2 separate regions of the Homo sapiens genome follow, and region 1 is linked to region 2. The links come from fine-mapping of genetic effects on gene expression. A gene starts in region 2. The other region holds a variant in brackets. All regions are shown on one strand. Distances are between the middles of the regions.

Region 1 (5,372 bases), 44 kb before region 2:
GAGACATCATGGTGAAGGTGAAGCCTGGAGTCAATGGATTAGGCTGTATTGGGTGCGTGGTCACCAGGGCTGCTTTTAACTCTGGTAAAGTGGATATTGTCGCCATCAATGATGCCTTCAATGACCTCAACTACATGGTCTACATGTTCCAGTATGATTTCACCCATGGCGAATTCCATGGCACTGTCAAAGCTGAGAACAGGAAGCTTGTCATCAATAGAGATCCCATCACCATCTTCCAGGAGCTAGATTCCACCAGAATCAAATGGGGTGATGCTGGCACTGGGTATGTTGTGAAGTCCACTGACATCTTCATCATGGAGAAGGCTGGGGCTCATTTGCAGGGGGAGCCAAAGGGGTCATCATCTCTGCCCCCTCTGCTGATGCCCCCATGTTCATGATGGGCTTGAACCATGAGAAGTAGGACAACAGCCCCAAGATAGTCAGCAATGCTTCCTGTGCCATCAACTGCTTAGCACCCCAGGCCAAGATCATCCATGACAACTTTGGTACTGTGGAGGGACTCGTGACCACAGTCCACACCATCACTGCCACCCAGAAAACTGTGGATGGCCCCTCCAGGAAACTGTGTCATAACAGCCGCAGGGCTCTCCAGAACATCATCCTTGCCTCTACCGGCACTGCCAAGCCTGTGGGCAAGGTCATCCCTGAGCTGAATGGGAAGCTCACTGGCATGGCCTTCTGAGTCCCCACTGACAATGTGTTGGCCAGGAACCTGACCTGCTGTCTGGAAAAACCTGCCACATATGATGACATCAAGAAGGTGGTGAAGCAGCATCAGAGGGCCCCCTCAAGGGCATCCTGGCCTACACTGAGCACCAGGCTGTCTCCTCCGACTTCAACAGTGACACCCACTCCTCCACCTTTGATACTGGGGCTGGCATTGCCCTCAATGACCACTTTGTCAAGCTTATTTCCTGTTATGACAATGAATTTGGCTACAGCAACAGGGTGGTGGACTTCATGGCCCACATGGCCTCCAAGGAGTAAGACCCCCAGACCACCAGCCCCAGTGACAGCATGAGAGGAAGAGAGAGGCCCTCACTGCTGGGGAGTTTCTGCTGCACTCAGTCCCCCATTGCACTGAGAATCTCCCCTCTTCACAATTTCCATGCAGATCCTCTGAAGAGGGAGGGGCCTAGGGAGCCCCATCTTGTCACGTACTATCAATAAAGTCCCCTGTGCTCAGGAAAAAAAAAAAATCCCATTTACAATAGCATTGAAAAGAAAAGTTCATTTCTGCTCCTGTTGTCAGCAGCTGTGGCTCTGCTCTGCATGTCTTCTTGTTCCAGGATCCAGCTGTAAAGCAGACCCATCCTGGACACACCGTTTTGTGGCCGAGGGAGAAGAGGGCCCGCAGACCCACGTGGTGCTTCTTCAAGCCACTGCTCACCAGGTGGCACAGGTCACTTCTGCTTACACCCTATTAGCCAAAGCAAGGCCCCTGTCCAGGCCTGAGGGAGTGGGGAGAGGACCTACGCCTCTCCCATAGGCCACAAAGGGAGGGTAAGGGATAACTGGGGACAAGAATAGGATTTGCCACACTCCTTGTTTTTAAATGTTAGCAACTGAATTGAAAGTATCATAAATGCTGGGCAGAGCCAACTAAAACACAAGAAACCATGAGCCATGGATGTACAACCTCTAATTTAAAAAGTCAGAAATGGAGTGAAAGCCTTGTTCTCTTCCTTGAGACACACACACTACCTCAGTCTCCTGAGTTTAACAGTCCTCTCAAAAAGGAAAAGTGGTTACTTTGCCTTTAACATTATGGGTGAATCTATACTAGTTCCTAGTGTAACCCAGCACCCCTGTTTTTCTAGAGGTGATTTAATTGTTTTTTTCCTTCTCTCTCTCTTCTTTTCTCATCTCCCTGGCCCCCTTAGCCCTTCAGAAATGCAAATATAACCATTCTCCTCCCCATCACCTGGCTTTCCCTACAGGGCAAGTTTTTCTAACTGTGTGCTCCAAGACGGATCTCTCCTTGAGAGCTGGCAGTCGATTTGCAGACCAAAGCACACCCACCAAGGAATTTTCACATCCAGAGGTTGCCTCGGAACTTCCATCTTCCCAGGGTTGCCTCAGGACTTTCATCCACCAGGAGGGGAAATCGAAAGCACACCCGCTTGGCCACTTTTTCAACTTACTTCTGCCCAGGAAGCGCCAACTCATCATCAAGCTAGGAGGGAGACCCCCTGCCCTTGCTCATTTCCTCCCTTACCTTATAAAAATCCCTGCTTTCTGCTCCCAAAGTGAAGCAGCACATTTTAAGGCAGGACCCTTTGTGCCCCTTCCCCAAGCTAACTTTGGAATCAATTTGCTTTTTTTTCTATCAGACCTTGCTCTTGTTAACTGGACTCCACATACAGCGAGCAACTAACCTGCATTTTAGTTACACTGGTAATCACTACTTCCTTTTGTAGGTGCTCATAAATTCTCTTTAAACAATTTATTCATAAATATGACCAGAATCTAGGTCATTTGCCGTTCTGTAATCTCCAGAACTCAACTTCTATTTCTTGCACTTAGGACATTTGCCTGGGTCCAGTGCTATGGCACCATTTTTGCTCACTACAGTCCCACAAAGATTATTGATAGAACTGAGCAATGCATTTGCAAGATCTCTTAGCACCCAAGGGTAAAATGTTTTTGGGCCAAGAAACTTGACACCACTTCCAATTGCATGAAGCTCTTTTACACTCCCTTAACTACTTTTTTATCCTGGACCCTATCATTGTCTTTAAGAACCATATGGGTAGAATCTGGAAGAAACTGCCATTCAAACCAGCATTACTTTTTGTTCAGAAAGAAGATGGTGAATTACTCAGGGTTGTCCAGA[G/A]GGACAGAACAAATAGGATACATATATATAAGATACATATACATTTGTATATATACACATATATATACATGTATCCTATTGGTTCTGTCCCTCTGGAGAACCCTGAGTAATTGTATATGTGTGTGTATATATGTATGTGAGTTTATTAGGGAGAATTGGCTCACACAATTACAAAGGCAAAGTCCCACAATAGGGCTTGCAAGCTGGAGAATCAGAAAAACCAGTAGCTTGTCTCAGTCCAAGACCTAAGCCTCAAAACCAGGAAAGCTGACAGTGCAGCTCCCAGTCTGAGACTGAAGGGCTGACAGCACCCCAGAGGTCACTGGTACAAGTCCCAGAGTCCAAAAGCCGAAGAACCTGGAGTCAGATGCCCAAAGGCAGAAGGAGAAAAGGAGGCCTGCTCTAGAAGGGAGAGAGAAAGAGAAAGCCCCAGCAAGCTGCATATGCCCCTTCTGCCTGCTTTCTTCTGCCTGCTTTCTTCTGCCTGCTTTTTTCTGCCTGCTTTGTTCTGCTGTGCTGGCAGCCAACCAGACAGTGCCCATCCACAGTGAGGGCGGGTCTTCCTCTCCCACTCCACTTACTCATATGTCAGTCTTCTCTAGAAACACCCTCACAGACACACCCAGAAAAAGTGCTTCACCAACCATCTAGGCATCCCTCAAGCCCATCAAGTTGACACCTAATATTAACCATTACAGAATTCATCTGAACAGTCAGCCCTTGGGTCACACTTCATGGGTATTTTTGTTACACACATATGCCTGGAACAAGTGCCCAGTGTGCTCTTTGGAACAATTATAAAGTCATCATTATTCTGGATGATGATTTTAGGTTTGGATGATAAATGTTTTGTTTTGGTTGTGTATGTTTTTGGATATGGTCAAGCCTGAGCTAAGTCTCTATAATTTTCTTGCTTTCCAGGAAGGAGTGAAATATTTCTTAACTCGGTAGGAATGTAGTGAATTACAGTGTTTGCTTATCCTTGCAGAGTGGAGAGTGTTTTTTGCCAGAGCAATTGTTTGCAATACCAGCCAGCCCAGAGGACTACAGAAGGACATTCAGGCAGAATATTCACCTCTCCCTAGAAGACAGCCTATAAAAGAGAACTAAGTGTGTTCAATGGACAGTTTCTGCCCTTCAAGTGGCATTATTGAAGTATAATGACCCCAAAGCCCTTGAGACTATTGTGTTCTGATGGGGCTGTTGTACTGGGTGCCACAGGATGAGATCATAGGCCTGGAGTGAGGGCTGGGTTTCCTGGGAGAATAGATGTCCCATCATTGGTCACCAGGGAGGAGCAGGTGTTGGGCAGAAATAAGTGCAGGGAGGCAGCTTGAGAATCCCTTCCCCTTTCTGGGTCTTGGGTGGGGTGGGGCTGGGATTCTAGGCAGAGCAGACCTGATTTGAGGGCACTTGCACTGTGTGCAGTTGTGCTGGCTCATGCCACATGACAGGATAGGAGCCCTGTAGGAAGACAGTGCAGCTTTGTCCAACAGAGTGTGGCCAAGCTGTGCACCCAAGGGCTGCCCTTGCTGGGAGAAAGGCACGCCTTCTTCTTGACACAAAGGTACCACCTACTAACCGAACCCTTACCTGACAAGGACCTGCCCACCAAGTGGGATCTCTGTCTTCTAATGTATCTGCCTGCCTTGCAGGTGGGGAGAGGGGACACATTTTTCTATTTTTTTCAGCCTGGTGAAGCTTTTTCTGCCCACAAAGACATCTTCTGCATGCCAAGCCATCAGCCTGCTTAAGGTGGGTACATTTTCATCACCGGGCATTTCTAAATCTGAGTCTGAGGATCCTGAAATTCACAACATCTTTTAATTGTTGTTAGTTATTATCCGCCTTGTTCTTTCTTTCTTTAGCTTTTTAAAAATTAAAATAGCGACAGCATCTCGCTATGTTGCCCAGGCTGGTCTCGAACTCCCAGGCTCGAGCAGTCCAGTCATCCTGGTCTCCCAAGTGTTGGGATTACAGGCATGAGCCACCTTGTCCAGCCCTTTCTTTCACTTTTGAATGTTTATTATACACTTGTTAAAGAGTCAGAGATTTACTGAGCTCCTACTGCCTACCAAACCTGTTTTAGACCTTGGGGTTACATAAGTGGGGGTGTGGGTGGGGTACAAAAATTCCTGCACTTGTGCAGCTTGTGTATTAGAGAGAGGATTGTGCTCTGGGGACTCAGGGAATGCTGTGTCCTGTGCTTAGGATGGAAAGCAAAGGGAAGTCCGGCATCCCTCATCCCAGGTGCTGGCAGCAGCAGAGCTGGCTAGCTATGCCCTGCAAAGGGTCCGTATCCTGAGTGTCATTAGCATCAGGGGATGATTTGGGGTAGTGAACAAGCATTTGCAGCTCCGCACCCAGAGAGAATCTCAGAAATATCTGAGGAACCCTTTGCGAGGGCTAAATTCTGGTGGGGTATTTAATGGGTGTGTGAAGTCTGCTCAGAGCAATTTTATGTGGCTTTGTTTCCCTCTAATCAGCACTAATTCTGCCCTTTCCAGTCTGA
Region 2 (5,372 bases):
CGAGTAATAGAGAAGGGATAATTGAGTATAGGGGTTCAAGGATGAAGGCCTAGGCAGAGGCCTCAGAAAGTACAGTCTTGCACCTTGATGGGGGTACACCTTGGTGGGGGTCAGAGAGTTCCAAAGCAGGCTGAGATGCCCCTTCTGGAAGATTCCTTGACTCTTCTCTTTCTCTCCCCCTCCATATTCAGTTCTTCAGAGAATTTCATTGACTCTGCTTTCTAAATGCTTTCAGACTCCACCCATTTCCACAACCTGCATCAGCACCACCCTAGTTTAAGCTGTGATCATCTCTCACCTGCGCAATGGAAAGAACCTCCCATCCAGTGTCCCTTGTCCACCCCTACCATCTGATGCTCTATTCTTACCCAGCAGCCAGAGTGAGCCAAGCTCCTCAGGTTAGAAGGTCCTACTAGATTTGGCCTCTTTGACCTCTCTGATCACATTCCTCCTTCTCCTTCTGTTTTATGCCATTTCAGACACACTAACACACCTTTAATTTTCTGAACATGTTATGGGGCTTTGCACTTGCTGTTCCCTGCACTTGGAATCTTCTTACTCCAGAAATCTCCAGCGCTCACACACTCCCTGTAATCAGGTCTCGCTCAAATGTCACTTCCTCTGAGGGGTCTTTTCTGACCACCTCACCTAGCAAAGAGTCCTTCTTCCCACTGGAACCCCCAAACATACACACTATTTCTTTTCCTTTCTGTTTTTTATTTGTTTGTTTGTTTGTTTTGGAGATACTCTCGCTCTGTTGCCCAGGCTGGACTGCAGTGGTGTGATCTCAGCTCGTTGCAACCTCTGCCTCCCAGGTTCAAGCGATTCTCATGCCTCAGCCTCCCAAGTAGCTGGGACCACAAGTGTGCACCACCACGGCTGGCTAATTTTTGTATTTTTTGTAGAGACAGGGTTTCGCCATGTTGGCCAGGCTGGTCTCGAACTCCTGACATCAAGTGATCCCCCTGCCTTGGCCTCCCAAGGTGCTGGGATTATAGGCATGAGCCACTGTGCCCGCCCACACATTTCTATACTCCACTTTTCTTCAGAACACGTTACATTATATTATATACTTGTTTCATTGTCTGTGTTTCCCACCAGAATGTAAGCTTCATGAGAGCAGAGACTTTTCTTAACACGTAGTAGGTGCTCAATAAATAAATGAAGGAGTCTAGCAAATGGGAACTGAGAGCTGCCAGAGTCACGGGTGTCTCTGGGAAAGAGGTAATAATTAACACACAAGGAAAGATTCCTGGTTGGGCACAGTAGCTCATGCCTGTAATCTCTGCACTTTGGGAGGCTGAGGCGGGCAGATCACCAGGTCAGGAGTTCAACACCAGGCTGCCCAACATGGTGAAACACTGTCTCTACTAAAAGTACAAAAATTATCCGGGTGTGGTGGTGCACGCCTGTAGTCCCAGTGACTCAGGAGGCTGAGGCAGGAGAATCACTTGAACCCGGGAGGTGGAGGTTGCAGTGAGACAAGATTACACCACTGCATTCCAGCCTGGGTCACAGAGTGAGAACCTGTCTCTTAAAATAAAATGAAAAATAAAACGTATATCTGATAACCATAGTCCCTTACTCAACACCTTCAGTGGCTTCCCAATGGTCCCAACCCCTTAACACACCATACAATGCCCTCTAGGTTCTGGCACTCGATTTCTTCTCAGCTCATTTCTTGTCACTTCTCTCCTACAGTCAAGTTTGGGCCCAGCAGACTGTCCTGGTCCTCTAACTGGGCTCCTTTCTGGGCCTGCAGAGGTGCTGTTTCTTCAGTCTGCGATTCCTTACCTCCCCTCTGTCTCTTCCTCTGCTGCTGCCTTCTGTTCTTTGGCATTCAACCGAGTTTTCCTTTCCTCTGAGAAGCCTGGGACCTACCCCGACCAAAGCTCCCTCCTCCTTGCCCCTCCCCCAATAACACAGGGTTGGGGTCTCTGCATTTGCTTCCTCAACACTGTACTTTTCTTGTCATGTCTATTTTATGGTCTGTGTCCCCACTAGACTGCAAGTTGCATGAGGGCAGGGCGGTCTATTCTGCTTTGGTCGCCTCGTGACGGTGTCTACCCAGCAAGTTGTGTGTGTTGGGTAAGTAGTGAGAAAACGAAAAAGCACTTGCTTTACAGGGCGGTTGGTCATAAAATAATAATAGCTTATATTTACTGACCACTTGTGATGTATCAGGCACCATTCTAAATGCTTTACAAGTATGTCACAGATTTCTCCCATAACCCTCTTAAGTAAGGGTTATTTCCTCCACATAGCAGATGGGGAAATTGAGGCACAGAGAGGTTAAGTAACTTGCCAAGGGCCACAGCGAGGAAGTGGAGGAACCGGCGTTAGAACCCAGGCTGTTTCCAGAGTCCAAATTCTATCCAAGAGTGAAGTGCAATATGGGGTTCCACTTCGTGAACAGATTCAAGTCTCCAAAGGGCTTTGTTTTTGTTTCCAGGAGGAAGGACGAGCTTCTGTGCCGCCGGCTTCCCAGGTTATGGGTGGCCAGCTGGGCTTTGGGAAGGGCCTGTACATCTCGCCGGCGGCCCCGGAGTCTGGGTGTGAAGCCCTGATTAACTTGCCGGGCTGCTCGGCCCACACGCCAGCCCTGCCCAGGTCCTCCGGTGCCCCGGGCCACCCTCATGCCCCCGCCAGGCCCGGGGCCGGGACTCGCGTCTCCAGGGGCGGGGCCGGGGGCGGGGCCGGGCCTCTCTTCGAGGCCGCCGCCCTGGCCCCGCGCTCGCCTCGCCGAGTGCGGCGGGCCGGGCTGGAGCTGGAGGGGCGGGGACTCGGGAGGGGCCGCAGCGCGGCTGCTGGTGCCGTTGCGGGAGAAGAGGAAGCGGCGCGTCCCCTGAGGCGTGCGCCTGGATGGACTGAAGGACGGTCCGACGCGCGCGGAGGGAGAGGGCCAGGGGCGAGGTCAGGCTCGGCGGGGGCGCGGGCGGCGCCCGGAGGGGGCCCCGGGGAGGGAGGCGGGGAGGCGTGGAGCGGGGAGCGGGGAGCGGGGAGTGGGGAGCGGGCCCGCGCCGGCTGAGCTCCGGGTCGGGCCCGAGACCCCTCCCCTGGCTGGGCGGGCGCGCTGCGAGCGCGCTCCGGCAGCTGAAAGCGGAGCTCCGGACTCCCTTCTTCCCCGGTTTCTTTTCTTTCCAATCAGCGAGATATAAACACCCTGCAAGGTAAAACAATAGCGGGGCCACCTGGGACGCGTCGCGCGCAGAGCTCCCACGGTTGGGGCGGGGGCCGGGAGTCGCGGCCCCACCGCGGAGCCCCTTCCCGATTTGCCCTGGCGGAGGGTGGGGCTACCTGCGGCGCCCGGGCTCGGTAGGAGGTGACGGGAATTCCCAGGAGTGAAGCATTTGGTGGAAGTATTTCAGGAACAATCGGGCTTCCCACTGTTGCCCTGCTCTGGGCAGGGAAACTGAGGCGGAGGGAAAGACAGAGACTTGCCCAAGGTCAGAATGCAGAGGTTGACTGTCCTGGTCCAGGAACCGGACCCAGGTGTCCGGACCAGCTCAGCGCTCAGCCCCAGTGGGTTTTGCAGCTTTGCCTTTGATAAAAATCTCTGTTGTGTTTGTTTTAGAAATCTGCTCGCGCTGGGGTACCGCTTCAGGGCTGCCGAACGCCAACTTGCTTCGTGTGCCCTAGGCAGGCGTGGGGCAGGTGGCGCCTCCGTGACCTACCACCATGGATGGAAACGGACTTTTTGGTGAAGAAACCCAAACGGTTGATGCCAGGCAGGGTGATTTGGCCGTCAAAGGTTTTGACGAAACCTGCCCTGTTCTCTCTGGGGAATCCGAATGAGGGAGATCACAGACACCTTCACTGAGAAGCCAAGGACATTTCTGTATAATCAGTGGATGAAAGGATTTTCTCAGACCCTTTTTTCCGTGCTTCTGGAGGATTAATCCACTACAGTCTGCAATTTCAGTGGAAACTGCAAGGCACACGATGTGGCAGGAGCCGGGAGCGACTTCCGAATTGTTGTGGACCCTTCCTGTAGCATAGGGGAGTTTTCACACTTGCCTCCACTCCTCCCCTTCCCCCCAACTCCCTCCTTCTGATCTCTTCTTTTTAATCTGTTCCCATTTTCCGAGTTAAGTTCTATTTCCAAAACTGTTCTCTGGAGCTATAAGTGGATTGCCAGAAATGAGAGATTAGGAGCTGGGAGAAGAGGAAGCGCCTTGTGTTGTGTCTCCTGGAGGCTGCCGACATGAAGTGCTTTTTCCCGGTGCTGAGCTGTCTGGCTGTGCTGGGTAAGTGGCTCTGCTTATCAGTGCAATCGATGTGAAAGTTTAACCTGCTCTTGGTTCCTGTAATTTCTCGTGGTTCTTTTTCATCAACACTAGGATTTGGGGGACACCAGGAGGCGGTCGGTGTGTGTCACAGGTTGGAGTAGAGTACGAAGAGGCCCGTTTCTAACCCAAGAGCAACGGTGGAATATCATTTGTTATCTATAAGAAGGAACATTTGCTGTTCTTAAAGTGTCTGTCTTGGCCCCTGGGGTGAGGTCCTGCATCTGCACATCTGTGGTTTAGGGACTTCACATGGCTGGTGGGCTGCTGTCTTGTAGCATGTCAAACATGGATGCTCTGGTGTTTTCACTTCTTTGTTGGGCTGCATTGATTCCTAATTGGGAGTGGGAACATCATTCCCCTCTGTCTCGAAAGTTGGTTTGGGTGATAATGATGGTGCCTTTTTTGAGGTGGAAATGGGAGTAAGTGGGATGGGGGTTGAAGGGATGCTTTGCCTACCTGAGTGGTCTGAAGGCTAAAAATGTGAGGGCACTAGTCCTGTGTCTCCTCACCAAGGAAGCTTAGATCGTAGTTCTGGGAGAAGGAGAGCCTGAAGAAAAGGAAGCTGCCTGGTAGGGGAGATTTTAGGATTGGCTTTTGTGCTCCCACAAATCAGAATGCCTAGAGTGGGAAGAAGAAACTATGGCCCTGAGAGGTGAACCTTTGACACCCCTCTTAAGGTGCAGATGCAGGACCTTCACCCCAGTGAAGAGGCCCCTCTGCTCAACAATTGCCTATTCTTTTTATGCCATTGAGCACTGTCTTCAGCGTGCTGTCTTAGAACACATCTCAGGTCTAGGATAAACTTCATTGCCAGGATTTGGTGCCATTCTCTTTCCCCATCTCAGACCTCATACATGAGCACACCCCCTGCCCTCTCTGTAAGGCTCGGTCCTCTGCATTCAGAAGGGATTATGATTGTTGCCTACAGGGTTCACGTCTCCAAATCTAGGTGTCTTGCACGTAGGGAACTTAGGGTGATCTGTTGGCAGTGGAGATTGCTTCCATGCATTGTCTACACCCTTGCAGTAGGTAACAGGTGTGTGGGAAGAGAATGGACTTTAGAATTAGAGGACCTGAGTTCCT

What was found. PIP is the estimated chance that this variant, and not a neighbour inherited with it, causes the effect.
Region 1: its variant is the best candidate, but not a certain one, in a credible set for the expression of IGSF3 in aorta (GTEx, PIP 0.79).

Annotation. Positions count from the first base shown.
Region 1 is chr1:116,709,472-116,714,843 of GRCh38, reverse strand. LOC105378926 (a long non-coding RNA gene) reads left to right here and starts at 4,355. Exons shown (of 3, transcript XR_947741.3): 1 at 4,355-4,427; 2 at 4,552-4,615. It also overlaps the pseudogene GAPDHP64. The variant G/A (reference allele first, on the strand shown) is at 2,861.
Region 2 is chr1:116,665,159-116,670,530 of GRCh38, reverse strand. It overlaps IGSF3 (immunoglobulin superfamily member 3), which reads left to right and starts at 2,798. Exons shown (of 11, transcript NM_001007237.3): 1 at 2,798-2,913; 2 at 3,575-4,247. The coding sequence starts at 4,205. RefSeq lists a silencer at 2,564-2,953.